Linked DNA regions of Homo sapiens: region 2 is linked to region 1. A link means that fine-mapping ties the variant in region 1 to the expression of a gene that starts in the linked region. Tissue or cell type: tibial artery. Region 1 holds a variant in brackets; the other region holds the start of a gene. All regions are shown on one strand. Distances are from middle to middle.

The links. PIP is the estimated chance that this variant, and not a neighbour inherited with it, causes the effect.
Region 2: it holds the start of ITGBL1, and the variant in region 1 is fine-mapped to the expression of ITGBL1 in tibial artery (GTEx, PIP above 0.99).

What each region holds. Positions count from the first base shown.
Region 1 is chr13:101,721,320-101,724,005 of GRCh38, reverse strand. It overlaps FGF14 (fibroblast growth factor 14), which reads left to right. Exons shown (of 5, transcript NM_004115.4): 5 at 1,039-2,686. The coding sequence ends at 1,175. Among named protein-coding and RNA genes, the nearest start is that of FGF14, 190 kb to the left of the region's middle. The variant G/A (reference allele first, on the strand shown) is at 1,124.
Region 2 is chr13:101,451,310-101,453,995 of GRCh38, reverse strand. It overlaps ITGBL1 (integrin subunit beta like 1), which reads right to left and starts at 1,321. Exons shown (of 11, transcript NM_004791.3): 1 at 1,065-1,321; 2 at 1-113. The coding sequence starts at 1,162. RefSeq lists an enhancer at 1,239-1,743.

The DNA.
Region 1 (2,686 bases):
ATTGATACTAAAGGCCACATTCTACCCCCTTGAACATAGGGAATGCATATGGTAGTTCATCTTAACTAAATCTAAGGGCTCTTCGTAAAATACCTTAAACTTTCAAAAACCTAAAAAGCAGTTTGGGCAGCTCTAATGCACTTGTATTTCTGATGGCAGATGACTTTAATCCCTAGTTTTCCCCAACCATCAGTCACTCTTATATGTCCTTTCTCAGGACTTCCAGAAATCATTTTCTAAAAAGCCACGTGAACTACTATGATTATGCCACCAGACACTATTTAGATAAATCCTCAGAGTTTATTCAGGTAGTTTCAGTTGCTGTCTTGCCATTCTGTTTTCTGCCCCTGTATCATGTCAATTATTAGATTTTTAATAACATAGCAGAAAATGAGTTGCCTTCTGCTGCCCAAGGGTCTTTTTCCATGATTGTAGGAAATGAACATTGAAATGATAATCTCCTGAAGGCTCTGGCTTATGGGAAGAGAGTTATTTGTTATTATTTTGTGTAGCTTTGAAGTTGACACTAGTATGACTATGTTGCTTTTGAACCACATGAAAGAAAGTAATTTAATGTTCTAGGATGTAAATACCGCAGCTCACAAAGATTGATTGAAGTGAATGAGAAGTTCATGTGTTGATATTAATGTGCAGTGGAAGGGATGTCTGAGTTTTCTTTTTTTGAGAATTAAGTTAAATGCCTGTCATTCTCCTATAGTGTGTGTGTGTGTGTGTGTTTTACATCATGGACCCACAAAGAGGCCATAGCTCCCATTTAAACCTGCTGTCCTAGACAAAAATCCATGCACACTCATATACATATTTTAGGTATACAGACCAGAGAATGTGAAGGGAGTAATGTCCTCTGTGGGCTGGAAATGATTGCTTTACAACAGGAATTCTGTCTCAATGGAATTGCTTTACTTCAGGGAAAACAGAAATGGGCAAACTGCAGTGGTCTATGCAGGTATGGATGGACCATTCTCACACCTAACCAAGCAATGTTTGCTTTTCCTCCTCCTTTCTTCCCATCACTAGTTGCCATGTACCGAGAACCATCTTTGCATGATGTTGGGGAAACGGTCCCGAAGCCTGGGGTGACGCCAAGTAAAAGCACAAGTGC[G/A]TCTGCAATAATGAATGGAGGCAAACCAGTCAACAAGAGTAAGACAACATAGCCAGATCCTCACAGGTGTTGTGACTTATTCGTCCTGAGCACAGTTGAGTGATTTATCCTCACCAGACATTCCTGCTCCGTGGCTGAAGAGCAGCAGGAAGTAAGCTAATGCTTATTCTTTGCTGTCTCCGAACTTCTCTGTTGCAAGTGGATAAATCTCAACCTGTTGCACCCCCCACAACAAGAAGACACCTGGATAACCAGCTAAACTCAGACCATGGAATGCCCTACCAGATATGGAATGCCTTTTTAATATCTTTTCTGTGACTGTGACACTTCATGTGAATGACATACTTCACAAGTACACTCGATACCTTGCCTGCTGACAGCTACCCATAATCCTTTTTGAGTCCTGTTTCAGCGAAATCTATGTGTTTAAGTTCAATTTTGTAGCACACAAATAATATTGAGTAATTTCTAGTTAGACGCTGTAAACCTGTGCTATTACGGATTTCTCTTCTTCCCATTTTTACAGGGCTGCTCGCTCCACTGTCTGTGACCTTTTGCAGGGATTTTGTTCCTCTAAATCTTAAATGTTGCAGTTGGCTTAGGTCGGAGAGCAATCAGGGAATCAGGAAGCCTTCTAAACCTATTATTACAAATTGCATCTATAAAGAAAGATTAAGAAAGATTGTTGTCTCTGGCTCACACTATCGATTAAACACACATATACGCTCTGTCCAGTAGCAGATACTGTGCTCCCAAGGTCGGCATTGCCTGGGTGGGAAATGGCTCAAACACAATCCAGGGAAGCTCTCTATGATATGTGTTTGACATCCCCCTCTAGTTTCTTTGTGTGTGTGTGTTTTATACATATCACAAGCTTACTGGTAATGGTAACATTTGCCTTGCCCAGCGAGCAAGACCCACTGGTTTTTGAGAAAGTGGGTCCAAAGATTTCTGTAGGCCTTGTAGGCCTGATTAAGGTTCATTTTTCATCTATTAATTCTCATTATTTGGAAAAAAAAAAAAAGGAAAATCAGTAATTATAACCTACAAGAATTGCGCTACCTAAATCCATTTCAGATATACTCCGTCCTGTTTTTAATGAACCAAACTTAACGCCATCCCCGTTTCTGGCTGCGTTCCCCTCATACTCAGCAGAGCATGGGCAAGACGGCTGTTGTGTTCTTTCCTGCAGCAGCAATGCAAACGTTAGTTATAAATTAATTAGACTTTAATATTTTTGGTGTTTAATGACAAGTTTTTAAACTGGACATATTAGGAAAAATATTTTTTTTAGCTCAGCATGCTGAGTCCGGTACTGTGTATTTCACCAGTACATGCCTCTAGCTCAGCATCTGGGGCTCATGTTGCCCAGTGGCTGGGTTAGAGGTGCCTTGCCATGATCTCAGAATACAGTCTGTTGAATTATCCTAGATGAAAATAAAGGCAAACCAACACATTCATCCATGAGGATTTTGGTCCATTCCATTTATTTTCTTTTATTTTGCATTCTTAATTTCCTTTTTAGTTTAACACTGTTTGTTTGAGCTTAGGGAAGACAACTAC
Region 2 (2,686 bases), 270 kb after region 1:
AGTCGCAGCGGCCCCGGCCGTGGCACAGCGCGGCCCCCGGGGGCTGCCCAGGTGCGCGGCAGCGTCGCTCCGACTCGGCCCGGGACAGCCTGCAGGCGGCGCCCGGCCAGCTCCTGCGCGGGCGACAAGCAACCGGCAGGCCGGGTCAGACGCGGACGCCGCCCCCTGCTCCGAACCCACGTTTCCTCCCCAGTGTCCCCTCCAGGTGCAGACGTACAACCCCAAGAACAGGACGCCTGAGGCCCACATCTCTCTGGGGTCCAAGCGCTGCCTGGAAGGGCTGTATTTTCCCAAGCAAACAGGTATCACCCACCAGAGAAATGACCAGGGCCCAAAATGTGTAATGGGTGACCTGCCCCCGGACACAGGTCCTTCCTCCAGGTGGACAGAGGTGAACTGCCCTGCTCTTTGGTAGTTTATCACTAAATCTTATATGCACATTTAGATTAAATACAAAGTAATCCAAGGTACGGCACTCAGCTGACTTTTCAGTTCTCCTTTAAAAAACGTCCCACTGCTATCTGATGGCCAATGGGCACTTATATTACAGAAGAGAAAACGTGAATCTATAGAAAGAGTTAGACATGCTATGATAGCATCGGGCATAATTTGCATTAAGCAGTCTTTAGGAACTCTACTTTTAAAAAGTTTAGTTTCACTATTGCAGTGTGCCTCACTCAGTCTCTTTCAGGATGATACAAAATGTAACACAGACCTCCTGTTGCTGCCCTTGGGAAACAGATCATTCTGCTTTACATGTTGTGAGAAGATACTGGTACACATAGCATTTTAACTCACAGCAGGAATTCCTCCTGATATGTATTTGCAGAAAAGAAAATTATATTTTTATTCAATGATTGCATTTTTCCAAAGGAAAAGCAAAAGGACAGACATGAGGCAATACACGCTGTAGATATAAGGAGAGGAAAAGGAACAGGTTGAAAACAGTTTATCCCTTGTCCAATTTAATAACAGCTCTTGGCTTAGGGCAGCCATCCTGCAAGCTTGAGCCCTGCCACATAAGCAGGGCAGGTCTGTACTGAAGAATAACAAACCAAACTTACCTCAGAGATGGCGAGAAGCTTTGAGGAACAGCTGACAACCCAGCAAAGAGAAGGGAGGACGCCAGCAGCAAGAAGTTCCTGAAGCCTGGGGGACGCATGCTGAGCTCCTGGGCTGCTCCGGGCGAGCTGCACTTCTGCAAGGTGGGGTTCACCGAGGGAGGCGGCAGGAGGGAGAGGTGCCACCAGCAGATGGCTGGGCAGACGGACCCACGGACACCCAGGCTTGCAGGTCCGGGGCTCCAGCCGGAGTTGCAATTGCGTTGATGAGCTGCCTGCGAGGATTTGGGCAGCGGCACTGCTCTGGGCGGGGTGCTGGTGCCAAACCCCTCAGTGGAGAGTCTAGGCAGGGAAGTAATTAGAAACAGTTGTACAAGCAGATGGTTTATTTTGACATTAAAAAAAAAAAAAGTGTCCTGTTCACAGATTTCAAGTACGGGCCACAGAAATATTTGACAAGAGAATATTTGGACTGGCCGATATTAAAGAAACCTTTAAAATAATCCCTGAGTTGTGGAGAAGGGTGAGGCCAGTGACAGTAGTGGGAACACTTGGGTAGGGAATTACTTTCACCACACGCTTTTAAAGTAGATGCACTCTTTGGAGTTTGGGTTGGGGCCGGGGCAAGGAAATCTGACAAACACAACTTTTTCTTGCATTTATTATCCTTTGATTTAAACTGGATATTTCATTTCTTTAGTCTTTAAAAAGCGTGTCATGCTTCCAGCTGTTTAGGCCAGTAGCTTATCACACCACAATTTGTTGGTGACTTGGACAGTTTAAATTGTAGTTGTCTCAAATTCACCCCATTCTCCCCATATATCAAATGTGAGAAAAGAAAATTAAATGTTTATTTATAGCACAAATTGCACTGAAAAACAATTGGTGTCATTTACTAAGCACCTACTATGTGCCAGTCATTTAGTATGTTTTCTCTAATTATGACAATAATCACACATTTATTTATGCATTAGCAAATGGGGATTTAGCATCTATCAGGTGCCAGGTTTTGTGCAAGACAGAATGAATATAACAGAGAACTAAGGAGACATGATCCCTGCTCTCTCAGAGTCCAATGAGCTAGAAAGACATTAATCAACACAAAACCACAAAAAAAAAGAACAAAGGGTTGCAAGTGCAGTGAGAAGTTACTTCCAGATGAGATACAGGCACTTGATCTAATCAAAGATGGTAGCATCTGAACAAAAAACTGAAAAAAGTATTGAATTAAATTGGGTAGAAATAAGAAGGAGATGGAAGAGAACAGGGAGACATTCTTACTCCCATTTTAAAGATAAAGAAACTGAGGGCAAAGAGGTCAACTGACTTGCTCAAATTCACAGAGGAAGTTAGTCGTATTTCAGCTGAAATCCAAAGTGCATACACTATCCCCTACATTTATGGTCATCTGGGAAAATGTGTAGAGGGTTATATGGAAGGGGGAAAACATTTTTCATTCACCCTAAGAAGAGCACTGTACATGCAATCCTTCCTCATGAAATAGAACCATCCAAGAATCATCTGTGGTCCCAGATCCTTAAAATCAGGGATGAGCCATAATAGGATGGGATTTCTCCCTGTCCTTTATATATAAGTAGGTATAAGGGTAAGACCACCACAACACT